Linked DNA regions of Homo sapiens: region 1 is reported to be linked to region 2. The links are microRNA targets in miRTarBase. Many come from high-throughput screens and were not tested one by one. Region 2 holds a microRNA gene; the other region holds the end of a gene's coding sequence. Distances are from middle to middle.

What was found. Region 2 holds the annotated microRNA hsa-miR-3678-3p (CUGCAGAGUUUGUACGGACCGG, at 5,601-5,622, opposite strand). A microRNA usually pairs through its seed, bases 2 to 8, with sites in the 3' UTR of a target mRNA and lowers its output. Matches are read on the target gene's strand: a 7mer-m8 pairs with bases 2 to 8, a 7mer-A1 pairs with bases 2 to 7 and ends in A, and an 8mer does both.
Region 1: miRTarBase lists SLC43A2 as a target of hsa-miR-3678-3p. Seed matches in the 3' UTR shown: 7mer-A1 at 3,017-3,023.

Annotation. Positions count from the first base shown.
Region 1 is chr17:1,567,864-1,576,174 of GRCh38, forward strand. SLC43A2 (solute carrier family 43 member 2) reads right to left here. Exons shown (of 14, transcript NM_152346.3): 14 at 1,405-7,902. The coding sequence ends at 7,741. Among named protein-coding and RNA genes, the nearest start is that of PITPNA, 9.2 kb to the left of the region's middle. RefSeq lists enhancers at 3,562-4,397, 7,653-8,311.
Region 2 is chr17:75,403,327-75,411,758 of GRCh38, reverse strand. It overlaps MIR3678 (microRNA 3678), which reads right to left and starts at 5,690; the gene lies at 5,597-5,690. It overlaps GRB2 (growth factor receptor bound protein 2), which reads left to right and starts at 6,081. Exons shown (of 6, transcript NM_002086.5): 1 at 6,081-6,270. It also overlaps the pseudogene RNU6-938P. RefSeq lists a silencer at 5,844-6,023.

The sequences.
Region 1 (8,311 bases), 74 Mb from region 2:
TCTTTTTTTTTTTTTGAGATGGAGTTTCACTCTTGTTGCCCGGGCTGGAGTGCAATGGTGCCATCTCAGCCCACTGCAAACTCTGCCTTCCAGGTTCAAGCAATTCTCTTGCCTCAGCCTCCCGAGTAACTGGGATTACAGGTGCCCGCCACCACGCCCGGATAATTTTTTGCCCTTTTAGTAAAGATGGGGTTTCACCATGTTGGCCAGGCTGGTCTCCAACTCCTAGGCTCCAGCGATCCACCTGCCTCAGCCTCCCAAAGTGCCAGGATTACAGGCATGAGCCACGGCACCCGGCCACTCTTTCATCATTGTGTCTGTGGATCTCACGGTTCCAGTTCTCAGCATGGTTTCCCCTGGGTGGTTGACCCTTGGTACTGCGTCGGTTATAGCCAGCCCTGTAACCCATCTCTGGGTGTCCTGGGGAGACTGTATTTCACTGTTTCCATCTTCCGCTCTGCTCTTCTCCCAGCCTCTTAGTCTATTTTAGCTTCTTTTCTGTGGTATTTCTGTCTCTCTCTCTTTTTAAACTTCGTCCCCCAAATATTTATTGAGCAGCTATTCCATGCCAGGCACGATTCTAGGCACTGGGGGTAGAGTGGGGACCAAGGCAGAGCATGCGCCAGCCTTCAAAGAATGTTTTTTTCTTTCTTTTCTTTTTTTTTTTTTGAGACGGAGTCTCGCTCTGTTGCCCAGGCTGGAGCGCAGTGGTATAATCTCCGCTCACTGCAAGCTCCGCCTCCCGGGTTCACGCCATTCTCCTGCCTCAGCCTCCCGAGTAGCTGGGAGTACAGGCACCCGTCACCACGCCCGGCTACTTTTTTGTATTTTTAGTAGAGACGGGGTTTCACCGTGTTAGCCAGGATTGTCTTGATCTCCTGAGCTCGTGATCTGCCCGCCTCGGCCTTCCAAAGTGCTGGGATTACAGGCGTGAGCCACCGCACCTGGACATTTTTTGTAGTTTTAGTAGAGACAGGGTTTCACCATGTTAGCCAGGATGGTCTCGATCTCCTGACCTCGTGATCTGCCCGCCTCGGCCTCCCAAAGTGCTGGAAATGCTCGCCACCACGCCTGGCTACTTTTTGTATTTTTAGAAGAGACAGGGTTTCACCATGTTGGTCAGGCTAGTCTCGAACTCCTGACTTCAGGTGATCCGAGGGGGCTTCCTTTATAAGCAGAATTCACCAGCAGCCTTGGTCTTCCCACCCAAAAGGCCTGTTGCTCTGCCCTCCCACACTCCTTCAAATGGCAATGCAGATCAACCAGCAAATGCAGCCTGGCAGGGGTGGGGGTCAGGAACGCATCCCAGTCAAGGGACAGGGAACCTGGGCACCAGACAAGAGGCGAGAAATGTGTGATCTAGGGAGAAAGAGACACAGGAGCCAAGGAGGAAGCCGCTCGCAGTCATTCTCAGCATACATTTATTGAGTGCTCACTGTGTGCCAGGAAGTAAGCCAGGTGCTAGAAACGGCAAAGGAGCAGGGAAGAGGCGGGTCAGCCGCTGGGTTGACCCTGGTTAATACAGGGTACGGATTAACCCTTCAGGCTCCCTTCCGAGGGCCTGGGCGGGGTCTTGGGGCCGCTCCTGCCCAGGTGTTCTTTCCAGCAATGGAAAGGGATTCAGCGAGGTAAGACGCTTCCCCTCTCCTCCATTCAGAGAGCGGCACACAAGAAATCTACACAGTCTTCCCAACATGTACACACCCTGACATGCCCGGATGCATCTCACACTTAGATAAACACACACGCACACAGTCAGAGGCACGGTCCCGCAGCTGTATGAGGATGCGGTGTACAGGTGCTGCCTACGTGACCGTGCCTTGAGTCGCCCCACTCAGCAGAAACCTCACTCAGCAGAAACTTGTCCACCAGTGATTGATTATCTCGAGCAGCTATTTGGCCAAGTCTTACCAAAACGTGAAAGCCACAAAAGAAAAGTGAACGAGAGAAGAGTTTCTTAAGGCTTTGCTCGGAGAGGGCTTCGGAGAAGGGTGGGGTCAGCAGATACAGACCTTACTTTTTTTTTTTTTTTTTTTTTTTTTGAGACGGAGTCTTGCTCTGTCGCCCAGGCTGGAGTGCAGTGGCACAATCTCGGCTCACTGCAAGCTTCACCTCCCGGGTTCATGCCATTCTCCTGCCTCAGCCTCCCAAGTAGCTGGGACTACAGGTACCCACCACCACGCCCAGCTAATTTTTTTTTTTCGTATTTTTAGTAGAGATGGGGTTTCACTGTGTTAGCCACGTTGGTCTCGATCTCCTGACCTTGTGATCCGCCCGCCTCAGCCTCCCAAAGTGCTGGGATTACAGGCGTGAGCCACTGCGCCCGGCCCTAATTTTTGTATTTTTAGTAGAGTTGAGGTTTCACCATGTTGGTCAGGCTGGTCTCAAACCCCTGACCTCAAGTGATCCACCCCGCCCCCGCTTCGGCCTCCCAAAGCACTGGGATTACAGGGATGAGCCACCTCGCTGGGACCAGACCTTACTTTCTTGACTTGGCCACAAGTCTGTCCTGCTCAGAGCTGCTGAAAGTGGCTCTCCTGTTGTATGGGCTTGGGTGTGGTGTGGTGGCCCTTTCCCTGTCCCAGCTGCCTTCTTCCTGGGCACTGAAAACGATGCTACCATTGTTTTTTTTTTTTTTTTTGAGACGGAGTCTCGCTCTGTCGCCCAGGCTGGAGTGCAGTGGCGGGATCTCGGCTCACTGCAAGCTCCGCCTCCCGGGTTCACACCATTCTCCTGCCTCAGCCTCCCAAGTAGCTGGGACTACAGGCGCCCGCCACTACGCCCGGCTAATTTTTTGTATTTTTAGTAGAGACGGGGTTTCACCGTTTTAGCCGGGATGGTCTTGATCTCCTGACCTCGTGATCCGCCCGCCTCGGCCTCCCAAAGTGCTGGGATTACAGGCGTGAGCCACCGCGCCCGGCCAAATGCTACCATTGTTAAGTGCCAGGCGTCCCACCATGCGGGTCTTCACTGCGTATCCACGTAGCTGCACCACGCAGGCATTCTTTCCTCCCTTTTGCAGATGATGGCACCAAAGTTCAAGACTCGCCCAGGGCCACCAAGACAGTCCTCTAGACTTTGGTCTTCCCTCCTTGCCTCCTCGGCCTGGGGTGGTGGCGCCTCGGTCTGAGAAGGGTCGAGGTCTGGGTGCTGCTAGTGGCCCTGGCTCAGTCTCAGAGCTGCCCGGAGGGGGTGAGGATGGCTAACTTAAGGAGCACAGGCAGAGGCTTCCTGCTGGCAGGAAGAGGGCTGAGCTGCGGAAGGCCACCCAGGTGGAGTGTGCTGCACCTCCTTCAGTGGCCTTCAGGAGCTCTGTCCTCACCCAGGGATTGGGGTGAGTCAGGGCATGGGGAAACAGGCTCACAGAGCCCACCTGCTCACCCTGACCACCCCACCCCAGGGGACCCCAGGCTCCTAACTCTCAGAATCCCACAGTCTGTATTGGCGGAAGACGGGCTGGCACCCTTGAGTTAGGCCCCCAGTCGTTGGCACAGATAAGGGGAGCTGCTGCTGAAGGAGCCCGACGGCTGATTCTGTGGAGGCTTCTCAGAGCTCCTGGCAGGAGCCCCTCACCGCAGGAGGCCCACAACCCCTCCCAGCTGCATATCGGCTCACATTCACGCGGCTGCCACACAAGTGCGTCGGAAACTCCACTTGGCTGAACGTGATTGTGCTGCTGTCTGGGACAGTCTTATGCACGTGAGCCCAATACTGGATGTCCCGCCATTTTCAGCCCTGGGGCCTATGGCAAAGTGACGCCCCCCTCGGAGTGCACGGCAGGCAAGGAAGGTTTAAACGGAAGTTCTGACCAGGACGATGCTGGGTGCAAGAGGGGACGGGGATGGAGCAAAACAGAAAGGATCCACCAGGGCCTGCAACCACGTCTTTGGCCCCGGTGAGGGGTGGGACCTTGTGTATAGGTCCAGGCAGCAGCAGCTGCAGACAGAGGCCTAGAGGGTTTGGAGAAGGCCGACCACAAAGACACGCCTAGACCCCAGAGTCTAGTGAGGAGAGGGACTGGGGGCAGTGTTTCGGCAGCAGACCCAGACCCAGACTCAGACCCAAGCCCCCCTCCTCACTGATCAAAACCCCAAGGGCAGGGAGCCCTTCCTGCTCCTTCCCGCCAGAGCCTGGAGGATGAGGGGCAGACGGGAGGCCCGGCCACTGGTGCCTGCTCCTTTGATCAGCTGTAGTCCCTTCCCCTTCACAGGGCACTTGTCTTGCTGGTTGGGGTCACCAGGGATTGCTCCCCCAAGTACCCATCAGCCTCCAGGGCCCAAATGATTCCATGCAGTAGCTCTCTCCCCCTCTTCTGAGAAGGCTCTTGGCTCCCAGAAACGGAAACCATGCCTGGGCCTGCTCCCCTTCCTTGGGCTGTGACCCCCCTGCCACAGAGGCCCCCCCCCCGCCACAGAGGTCCCCCCTGCCACAGAGGTCCCCCTGCCACAGAGGCCTGGTGGCCCCTGAGCTGCTGCTCCGAGTGGAATGTCCTGGTCTAGAGGCCCTTGGCTGCTCCAGTGTCTTAAGACCCATATATGAGTGCTGGCTCTGACCTTGAACAAGCTCCTCCATCGCTCCAGGCCTCGTTTTTCAGGTGTATATGATGATAGTATCTCTAGGCCTCGTTTTTCAGTTGTAAAGCAGGGATGATCATATGTGTTTAACTCCCAGATTGTTATCAAGTCAAGGACAACAATAGGAAAACATGTCACCTGTCAGCTCCACACAAGGCAAAGTAGGATGGGTGACCCCTGACTAGGGGGTGGGAGTGCAGGGGGCACCCGACCCATCTGGCCAGCCACAGCCTCTGTACCCTGCTCGCATTTTCAGGCCTCAATCCCCAAGCACTGTTGGCCCTGGACTGTTTCCCCCCCTCAATTCTGTTTCTCAATGCCTGCTTCTTCCCAGTAAGTGCCACACCCTGAGGGTGGGTGGGAGAGTGAGGCAGCACTGCCCACTTTGGCTGGGACTGGGCACTGCTGGGGACAGCACGGGCCACGTCTTCCCCATCTCAAGACTGGCTTTTTGGCTAGGCATTGTGACTCACGCCTGTAATCTCAGCACTTTGGGAGGCTGAGGTGGGAGAATTGCTTCAGCCCAGGAGTTCCAGACCAGCCTGGGCAAAATAGCAAGAATTCATCTTTATGAAAAAGAAAAAAAAAATTAGCCAGGCATGGTGGCACACACTTATAGTCCCAGATACTTAGGAGGCCGAGGTGGGAGGATCCCTTGAGCCCATGAGTTGGAGGCCGTGGTGAGCTATCAGTTGCACCACTGCACTCCAGCCTGGATGGCAGAGCAAGACCCCAACTCAAAAAAAAAAAAAAAAAAAAAAAGGCGGCCTTTTCCCAGCTGGCAGCACCCTGGCTAGTTAGGGTTTCTCCGAATCTGCAACTCCTGTGTGATGGCGGGTCTCAAATGCTGGCAGCAGAGTCACCGGTCAGCGGCAAGACCTGGAGTCTCCATTTGGAACCAGCACCCGGGAGCCTCTGCTGGGGGTGATCATGGAGCCGCACGTGGAGGCTGGTGGCTCTGATGGTTCGAGCCGTTCCTCGGCAGCACAGCACACCCGCTCCTGAGGAGCCACGGAGCTCATGAGCGTTGGCAAAGTGCTGTCAGTGCTGGCTGTAAGGAAACAGGCTTGACTTTTAACTCAGCCTTTCCCAAACTTGACTATAATACTTTCTTGAAAATCAGAATAACCACTAACATCACAAAACGAGTGTTCTCAGGAGTGGGCATGTTTATCTCGTTCTCTTTTTTTTTTTCTTTTTGAGACGGAGCCTCGCTCTGTTGCCCAGGCTGGAGTGCAATGGTGCGATCTCGACTCACGGCAATCTCCGTCTCCCCGGTTCAAGCGATTCTCCTGCCTCAGGCTCCCGAGTAGTTGGGATTACAGGCGCACGCCACCACGCCCGATTAATGTTTATTTTTAGTACAGACGGGGTTTCTCCATGTTGGTCAGGATGGTCTCGAACTCCTGACCTCAGGTGAGCCTCCTGCCTTGGCCTCCCAAAGTGCTGGGATTATAGGCGTGAGCCACCACGCCCAGTCTTTTTTTAAATATTTGAGTGAAATAAAGCCTAGGAGATATGTGTTCCAGGCGCCCAAGCTGTTAATGTGGAGCTTGAATGTGGCCTGGACCTGCCCTTTCCTCTTCTCCTTTCATCCCCCTCCCTGCCGCCCACATCCTGAACTGCTCTGAGCCTGCAGAAGAACCCAGCGGGAATCTTCAGGGTTGTGGAAGGGTGTAGGGATGGAAAGGGACCAGGATTCGCCTGTTTGGCTGGGAAAATCGGTAGAGGAGGGTGGCTCACACTTCTAAGATGTCTGCACAAGCCCAGTTTGTTTGGGGGTTGGGGAGGAAGGTCTTTTCCTGGCCCACTGTCCCTCCCGAGTCAGCAGTCCCCCAGAGAGACGAAGAGCAGCTGGGCACGGCTGGAGCTGGTCGGTGGCAGAGAATCTTGTCCTGCCTTTTCTTCTCAAGCTCAAAATAGGCACATGCAGCTATTAACTGATATGCCAGAAGGGGCATCCCTTACCCGGAGGAAAATGGATTTATTGCTTTATAAAAAAGAAGTCTAATAAAACTGAAGAGAAAATAACTAAAAATCCAAACACAACTCACCCCTCTAAGCACGCCCAGGAGGTCTCAAGACACACTTCTGGGGGCAGTCAAGGTGGGCGGGTTGGTGGGCCAGGCGGACGGGCCTCCCCCGTCATCAGCTCCAGGGCCCCACGGAGCCCGCCGGCAGGGGGTGCTGTGGGCCTGTGGCCTTGGACAAGCTCCTGGCCCCACGCCAGGATGGCTCCTGGGCACTGGCCCAGCTGCAGGCCTGGCGGCTCCCGCCTGGTCAGTGGGGATAAGGGCTAACTCCTAGAGCCCACCCCGACCCCACACACACCTCGGACCCACCCACGTCCCCACCCCGGCCTGGACCTCCACGTCTGCCGGCCACAGCCTTTCGTCCACCTCCACAAAAGCAGCTGTGTGTATGTACGGGGTGCCCTGGCGGCGGTCCTCAAATTCCCTTCAGGTGGCAGACAGAACGAGGGTGACAGTGAAAACGTGTCCGCGGCATTGGCCCTCGGGGAGGAGGCGAGGGGTCCACCCAGCCCGCTAAACCCTCTCCAGGGCATAAGCCAGGTGGGGCTTCTCCACCGGCCTCCAACGGGTGGGCAGGCCCTGGACAGGCGACAGGGGGCTGGAATTACAAAGGAATTAGCACCGACAACAGGAAGCGGGTCCTTCCTTCCTCAGGCAGCCTCAGGCTGGCCGGGGAGGGGGTGGGGGCCAGGCGCGGGCGAGACAGTGCAAGCCTTTGTCCTCAGGCAGGTACGGCTGTGGGCATGCAGCCGAGGGGCAGGTGGCAGGCAGGGGATGGCAGCCCCCTCTGCTTTGGCAAGAGGCAGAATCCAGACACTGGCGGGAGAGCGCCTGCCTGCCGGGCGTTCCTGGCTCCTGCTGCAGGCACCACAGAGACCCCAGGCCCCGGGTCCCCGGGGGGCGGCAGAGCAAAGTCAGGGCAGCCCCTGCGTTCGGCAGGAGAAAACGCGCGTGTCCGGGGCCCTCTCCCGTCCTTCCACCACAGAGCTCCGAGGCAGGGCCCCGGGAGGGAGCGTGAACGCTGGCACGGAGACGGCGAAGGTCCTGGGGGTGCGTGGGGTACTCTGGAGGGGCAGGACAGGGGTCAGTCACTGAAGCACAGGCAGGAGACCGCAGTTCCGAGGCGGCAGCCACTACACGAAGGCCTCCTGGTTGGACGAGCCGTTGATTTTGAGGAAGAGTTTGTCATCCTCCTGCCTCTGCTGCAGCTGCCGCTCCAGCTGGCGCCGGTAGCAGATCAGGTAGAGCGGGAGGCAGAAGCCCAGCAGGCTGAGAAGGAGCAGCCCCACGTTCACCTGGGGAGGCAGGGAGGCCGCGCATCACAGGGCGTGGTGGTGCGCCGAGGCTGCAGACCCGCCCTCCACTCGGGTTTGGGAAAGGGGAGAAGGTCACGGGGTGGAAGGGGGAACGAAACAGGAAGGCCCACGAGGTCCCATATGCCAGCGTCCCGGTTCCCAACTCTTCACAGGCCATGTGGCCACCCTCAGGGCCTGGGCCCCCAGGAAACACGGGCTGATCTGAACCTCTGGGCTTGGAACAAGTTCCTGGTACCTGGTGAGGAAATCTGGCCCTCGGAGGTGGGGCGGGGACAGGAACTGTGTTCTTTTTTTTTTTTTTTTTTTTTTTTTGAGACGAAGTCTCGCGCTGTCGTCATTCAGGCTGGAGTGCAGTGGCGCAATCTCAGCTCACTGCAATCTCCGCCTC
Region 2 (8,432 bases):
TGGGGTTTTACCATGTTGCCCAGGTTGGTCTTGAACTCCTGGACTCAACTGATCCACCCACCTCCACCTCCTAAAGTGAGATGTGAGCCACTGTGCCTGACCTACCATGGAAATTTTGAAGAAGAAAACTGACTTGGGGACCTAGTGGAAGGGTAGAAAGCCAACTGAACAGAGGAAATTGCATGTGTAAAGATATGGACACTCAAAGGATCATGACACCTTCCGGAAACCACAAGTGGGTTAGTATTGGTGGAGTATGTGTTACTGGAGACTGAGAAGGTGGCACTGGCTGGAAGGGCCAGATCTTTAAGAGCCTTGTAAGGGACTTGAGACAGTAGATGATGAATGTCTTAGTTCCAATTGGTTTTCTACTCTGCAGCCAGAGTGACAAAATATTTGGAAGATAAAAATTTGACCATGGCCCACTCCTACTTCAGTATTCCACAGAGTCAAGTCTCAAGTCTTTAGCAATAATGAAAAAGTGGGTGCAGTGGCTCATGCCTGTAACCCCAGCACTTTAGGATGCTGAGGTGGGAGGATCAAGAGTTCAAGACCAGGCTAGCAACAAAGTCAGACTCCTCTTCTCTACAAAAAATAAAAAAATTAGTCTGGGTGCAGTGGCCTATGCCTGTAATCCCAGCACTTTGGGAGGCCGAGGTGTGTGGATCATCTGAGGTCAGGAGTTCGAGAGCAGCCTGGCCAACATGGTGATACCCCCATCTCTACTAAAAATACGAAAATTACCCAGGCGTGGTGGTGCGTGCCTGTAGTCCCAGCTATTGGGGAGGCTGAGGCAGGAGAATTGCTTCAACCTGGGAGGCAGAGGTTGCAGTGAGCCAAGATGGTGCCACTTCACTCCAGCCTGGGTGACAGAGCAAGACTCTGTCTCAAAAAAAAAAAAAAAAAAATTAGTCAGGCATGGTGATGGCGCATGCCTATGATCCCAGCTATGTGGCAGGAGGATTGTTTGAGTTCAGGAGGTTGAGGCTGCAGTGAGTTGTGATCACACCACTGTACTTCAGCCTGGGCAATACAGCAAGACCCTATCTCAAAAAAAGAGAGAGAGAGAGAGAGAGAAAAGCAAAGGCCCTTCACGAGCCTCTTCAGCTGCTTTACCCACATGCCACACATCCTTCCTTGTCCCAGCTATTGGCTTCCTTACATCCTTGCTTACTGTCTGGCCTTCACACTTGCTGTATCATTTCTTCCTCTCAGGCTAACCAGGGTCTCAGCTTAAAGCCCACTTCCTCTGCCTTCCCTCATAGTGGATGAGGTCAGGTCCCCTGCTGTATGCTTCCAAAGCCACCAGCACTATCCTGGTCAAATTCTCAGAGACATGTCTTCCCCTTCAGGCTGCAGACTCTGTGGAGGGTTGTCCTCCTCTCTAGAGAGTAGATGCTCTAGGCTGGGCGTGGTGGCTCACGCTTGTAATCTTAGCACTTTGGGAGGCCAAGGCGGGCAGATTGCCTGAGCCCAGGAGTTTGAGACCAACCTAACCAACATGATGATACCCATCTCTACTAAAAACACAAAAATTTAGCCAAGCGTGGTGGTGCATGACTGTTGTCCCAGGTACTGGGGGGCTGAGGCAGGAGGATCTCTTGCCCAGGAGGTTGAGGCTGCAGTGAGCCCTGATCGTGCCACTGCACTCCAGCCTGGGCAACAGAGTGAGACCCTGTCTCAATACATACATACATACATACATACGTACATACATACATACTTACATAACACAAAAAATTAGCTGGGCATGGCGGCATGTGCCTGTAGTTCTGGCTACTTGGGAGACTCAGATGGGAGAATTACCTGAGCCTGGGAAGTCAAGGCTGCAGTGAGCTGAGGTTGCGCCACTGCACTCCAGCCTGGGTGACAAGAGTGAGACCCTGTCTCAAAAACAAAAAAAAACAAACAAAGAGAATAGATGCTTAGTTAATGTTGGCAAAGAGAATGAATGAGTACATTAAGCTTTTCTTTTATTTATTTATTTATTTTTTTTTTTGAGATGGAGTCTGGTTCTGTCACCCAGGTTGGAGTGCAGTGGCATGATCTTTGCTTACTGCAACCTCCGCCTCCTGGGTTCAAGCAATTCTCCTGCCTCAGCCTCCCGAGTAGCTGGGGTTACAAGCATGTGCCACCACGCCCGGCTAATTTTTGCATTTTTAGTAGAGATGAGGTTTCACCATGTTGGCTAGGCTGGTCTCAAACTCCTGACTTCAAGTGATCCACCTGCCTCAGCCTCCCAAAGTGCTGGGATTATGGGAGAGAACGCTGCGTCCAGCTTGTCAAGCTTTTCAACAGCATACTGAATATTTCCACCTGCATGTCTCCTGGAATGCTGAATTCTGCATTTCCAAAAATGAGTCATCATCATGTTGGGGCTCAGAGAATGATACCCCAAAGTATGCTCCTCTGGCATTCTGAGCACTTTTGAATGAAAGGAAATTGGAAGGACTTACAAGCTGCCTCAGAACCAAGGACTTTTTAAAGTCTTGTTTCACCACCCCACATGCATGCAGGGGCTGTCTGAAAGTTCCCTTAGCTGACTGAGAAACCAAAAGAAATTCAATTGTGTACTTGCTTTGGCAGCACATATACTAAAATTGGAATGATACAGAGATTAGCATAGCCCCTGAGCAAGAAGACATGCAAATCTGTGAAGGGATCCATTAAAAAAGAAAGAAAGAAAAAGAGCAGGTGTGGTGGCTCACGCCTGTGATCCCAGCACTTTGGGAGGCCAAGGCGGGCGGATCACCTGAGGTCGGGAGTTCGAGACCAGCCTGACCAACAGGGAAAAGCCCCATCTCTGCTAAACATACAAAATTAGCCGGGCGTGGTGGTGCATGCCTGTAATGCCAGCTACTCTGGAGGCTGAGGCAGGAGCATCACTTGAACCTGGGAGGTGGAGGTTTCGGTGAGCTGAGATCACGCCATTGCACTCCAGCCTGGACAACAAGAGTGAAACTACATCTCAAAAAAAAAAAAAAGAAAAGAAAAGAAAAAAAATAGATGCGACTGTCTTAAAATTTCCTCCCTAGGACTCTCGTCAAATAACCAGGAAATATTAACTACCAGAGAAGAGAAAAGACTAAAAGTTGTCACCACATCCAAACAGACTTTTCATCTATTCTCCTGAGGACAGCTGAGATTATTTAGGAGACTTTATCTGCATAATAAGACAACCTTTATTTACAGTGAAGTCCTGCACCTCACCTTCCTGAAATTTGTCACAACCTCCAGCTCCCAGAGCTCAGAGGAACTTTGTCCCAGGCATTGTTTGGGCTCATTCCTTTTCCCTAAAAATAGTTGACTACCTTTCAGTATTGCTGACCTCCGCTCATCTCCCTCTCCTCTGCAAAGATGGTGCTCTTTAAGCTTCAGCCACCTGGCTCTTCTCTGAGTCTCATATTCTGTATGGTAACCATGCACACTGCATGTCAGTAAATTTGTATGTGCTTTCTCCTGTTAATCTATTGCCAGTTTATTTCAGCAGACTCAAACTGTCAGAGTGGAAGGGAAAAATTCCCTTCACCCTTACAATCATCTCCTCACCTGCCCTTCCCTGTTCTCTGTGCCTGCCCCCTCCAGTCAGCTATGCCTCTTGACTGGCAAATTTCTGTGTTCTCCCTGTTATCCAGGCCCACTCAAAACAAAAAACTGCAATTCTTCCCTCATGTCTTCCTCTCTGCTTAGCAGCTAAGTCCCTCCCTTCCATTTCTATTTTTTTCTGACTGCTATTTTAGAACAAAGTGGCATAGTGCGGGAAAAAAATGAGGATTTTAGAACAAGACAGGCCTTAGTCCAAATCTTAGGTCTACTATATTTTGGCTTCCTTGGGTAAATTACTAACCTCTCTAAGGCTTAGTTTCCAAGTCTGTAAAATGGGGATATTACCCACCCTGTGGAGGCGCTATGACTTAAGTATGCATCAAGTGGTAAATAGAGGGTCCTTTTCTTATTTTCACCTCATATCAGACACCTCCTGCTCAGAAACCTTCAGAGGTTGCCCATCACTTGACTATGACACCTAAGCCATGCATTTTGCATTTTGGCCCCTCTCTCTCATCACTCTTCCCCCCAATTACTGGGGCTTGGACTAATCAAAAACATTGGTTGATGGCCAGGAGTGTTGGCTCACATCTGTAATCCCAGCACTTTGAGAGGCTGAGGCAGGTGGATCACCTGAGGTCAGGAGTTCGAGACCAGCCTGGCCAACATGGCGAAACCCTGTCTCTATTAAAAATACAAAAATTAGCTGGGTGTGGTGGCAGGCTGCTGTAATCTCAGCTACTTGAGAGGCTGAGGTGAGAGAATGCTTGAACCCAGGAGGCGGAAGTTGCAGTGAGCCAAAATCATGCCACTGCACTCCACTCCAGCCTGGGCAACAGTGCAAGTCTCAAAAAAAAAAAAAAAACCAAAAAAACAGGCATGGTGGCTCACGCCTGTAATCCCAGCACTTTGGGAGGCCAAGGTGGGCGGATCACCTGAGGTCAGGAGTTTGAGACCAGCCTGACCAACATGGAGAAACCCCATCTCTACTAGAAATACAAAATTAGCTGGGTGTGGTGGCACATGCCTGTAATCCCAGCTACTCGGGAGGCTGAGGCAGGAGAATCCCTTGAACCCGGGAGGCGGAGCTTGCGGTGAGCCAAGATCGCGCACCATTGCACTCCAGCCTGGGCAACAAGAGCAAAACTCCGTCTCAAAAAAAAAAAAAAAAAAAAAAAACAAAAGGCTGATTCCATTACTCTTTCCTCTTTCCTCCCTGCTTTCACTTTGCCGTTCAAACCAAATCCTTCTTGATTAGCTCAGCACCAAGTACTGGCTCCCTCCTCAGCCATCCCTATGTGTAGTTCAGTGGCACTTGGGGCCAACTGCTTGTCTTACAGATTAGGCAACTCTAGATTACAAAGCACTGAAAGCAGGGGCTTCATCTGGTTGGTCTTTGACCCTGCAGAGCCCCTTGCACACAGGTGATGCTCAATAAATACTTGGTGAAAGCACAATTCATTTTCTGTGTTTCAATGGGCTTCTTTTCTCTATAGAATCAGATGCTTGGTTATTCTCACCTCAGCGCTATTTTGTTGGCTTCCAGAAGGCACAGTAACGCTAGGTGTGTTGTGTTCTATCCTTTAATTGGAAGAGCTTTGGGAACTGAAAAATAAGAATTATTTCTCCAAGCCTCATCTTCTGCCACTCCCCCGTACTCACCGGCCTCATACAGGAATTGAACTACTTAGCACTGCACAGAACACGACTTTCTCTCTCACGCCTCCGTTCCTCTGTACTTAGCCTCTGTACTTACGTGCCATTCCCTTTCCCTGAAATGCCCTTACTCTGGCTTCTCTGCCTGGCAAATTCCTACTCATCCTCCAAGACTCAGATCAGACATCGCCGCATCACATCTGTGAAGGCTCTTCTGCAATGGGCAGTGTAGCAGTACCCCCTCCATTTTTTTAGCTTCCTCAGCAAACTCCAAATAATTATAACAGTACTTATGGCATTATTTGTTTATTTTTCTTCTACTTCCTAGACCGTGAATTCCTTAAGGGCCAAGATTTCTGTTCTATCCCCAGCACAGTGTTCGGCCTATATTGGAGAATCCGGTCCGTACAAACTCTGCAGTGATTCAATCAATGAGCAAACAAACTCACCAATCATTCAACACAGCAGAGTTTGTACGGACCGGATTCTCAAATATTTTAAGACCTGGTCCTCTATTTGGAGTGCTTCATTCTGGAAGATCTCTTCCTCCCCCAAGCCCCTACCCATCCAACTGCCTAGGTTTGGTAGAAGAGGAAAATAAAGTGATTAGACGGGGGAAGAGTCCTTCAGGGCTAAGCTGTCATTTACCCGCTCTGGCACCGAGAGGGTTACGGCGACCCGGGGGCGGAGCCGTGCGGAGGCCACCTGCTGCGGGGAGGTCTGGCGCATGCGCCCTGACACCTAGCTGGTTCCCTACCCGCAGGGGCCCGGCTGAGGAGGAGCGCTTGCGCTCTGGGCCTTTTCCGCCGGGGGAAGTCTCGCGGGGGCGGGGCGGGGCCTCGTGGAGAAGTTCTCGCGGGACACCGACGGGGAGCGGAAGCCAGGAGGTATTGCTGCTTCGGCGACCGGGCGGCGGCAGCGGCGGCGGCGGCTGTGGCAGAGTCTGTGCCTGTGGCGGTGACGGCGGCGGGAGCAAGCGCTGCCCTCGCAGAGCAGCCTTGGGGTCGCCGGCCGCTCGCAGCGTTGTGGAGGGGCGGGCCGGACGCTGAGCGGAGCAGCTGCGCCACGGTGAGTACGGGAGGCTGCGCTCGGCGCCTCTCTCGTGCCTTTTCCTCTTGGCTCTACAGCGGGAGTGGGCCCCGGGGGAACCGGGACCGGCCCCGGGGTTCGCGTCGGGGCGGCGAGGCTTGGGACGTGGAGCGCAATCCCCGGGGCTCCGGACTCTACGTTTCCCCTTTTGGGGCGCTTCCTTCCTGGGGACCGTCCTCCTCCGGCTCTTGGCTCTGGGCAGTCCGGGGGAAGAGGTCGGGGTTCTCTGGCGAGGTCCCCTGCCTTCATCGGGAGGGTTTGCACGGAAGGGGCCCGGGAAGCCCAGGCGGGCCGAACGCCGACCGAGTCAGTCTACCCGAGCCTGGCGGCGGGGGACTGGTGTGGGCTGCAGCTGTGGTGATTGATGTGCCTTCGACCTGCACGGCAACCACGTCACCATCTCCTGGCGTCTTTGGGCTTAATTTTGTGCGGGAATCCACTTTGGGGTGGAACGTTTGCTGCTGGAGCCGGGGGAGATACCTTTATTCTGACACTTAAAAAAAAAAACTATTTGAAAAATATTTGTCAAGAAAAATTCAGCAGTAGCAGGTTGGACTGCACCGAGGAAGGATTGCGGCGAGAGCGGGCGCTGGTAATTTTCATTTGCAGCGCGCCCTCTCTATGATTGTAAGCCACACATGAGTTATGGCTTGTTTAGAAAGTTTTTCAAGGCTGGCTTCAAACGCTGTGAAAGTGCAGTTTGCAGGGGACTGAAGTGCACTTGAGGTCTGTCTCTTTTTGATGCTGTTGACTTTCCGAAATGTCAGACACATGAGAGAAATTAGCATTAGTCTATTTTGGCTTTCTTACTCCTCTTTCTCCAGTTATTTCCTTCCTTCTCTATCTGCTTCTGTCCTTTCCACTAGGGACACGAAATGCTTGTGTAATGCAAGTCATTTGCCCCTTCCTCCCCCCACCCCCCCCTTTTTTTCTAATGTACTTCCCCTTCCTCCTTGTAGTCCCCACTCTGGCGTAATTTTTCGAGGTTTCTTCCCTTTCGTGCTGTTCGTTTTCTCTCATTTCAAGATTCCGTCTTTTTCCTCGGGAAGAGACTCTCTTTCCTTGCTTTCGTTCCTTTACTTTTGCGCGTCCCCTGCGTTCCCTGCAGTCAGCCAGAAGGGTTGCTAGAGAGCCGTGGGAGGCTGAAGTCCCCTCTCTGAGAACGGGGAGGCTCAAAAGATTGAATTCATCCCTAAGAAATCAGTCCTGCCACTAGGTCGCAAGTGTGGTTTGCTTGTATTATTTTTGTCTTTTACTCTTTTTCTTTTAAGATTATGCTTCTGTGCCTGCTTATGTTTTCTTCTAGTATGTCTTTATAATAGGAAGATTGGGTCAGCTCAGTGACTTTTTTTTTTTAGGCAGAGTTTTGCTCTTTTTGCCCAGGCTGGAGTGCAATGGTGCTATATGGGCTCACTGCAACTCTGCCTCCTGGGTTCAAGCGATTCTCCTGCCTCAGCCTCCCGAGTAGCTGGGATCACAGGCGCCCACCACCATGTCCAGCGAATTTTGTATTTTTAGTAGAGATGGGGTTTCACTGTGTTGCCCAGGTTGGTCTTGAACTCTTGACCTCAGGTAATCCACCCGCCTTGGCCTCCCAAAGTGTTGGGATTACAGGCGTGAGCCACCGCGCCCGGCCAGAGTTAATTCTTATAATCAGCTTTCTTCTACTAAACACAAGCATTTATTTATTTATTTTATTTTTTTGAGACGGAGTCTCGCTCTGTCGCCCAGGCTGGAGTGCAGTGGTGCGATCTCGGCTCACTGCAGCTTCCACCTCCTGGGTTTAAGCGATTCTCCTGCCTCGCACTCCCGAGTAGCTGGGATTACAGGTGCTCACCACCACACCTGGCTAATTTTTGTATTTTTGTAAAGACAGAGTTTCACCATGTTGGCCAGGCTGGTCTCGAATTCCTGACCTCAAGTGATCTGCCCATCTCAGCCTTGGGATTACAGACATGAGCCACTGCGCCCGGCCTGAACTCAAACGTTTAAATGTTTGAGGCACTTTACTTCGTCAGCAAGTTATTCAGATTTGAGAGGCTTGCTGGGTTTTAAATACTACTGGTTGATGGTACTTAGAGATTCTTCTCAGTAATTGCTGTTATCATGTTGCATGTTGTCCATCAGAGTTCTAATTGTTA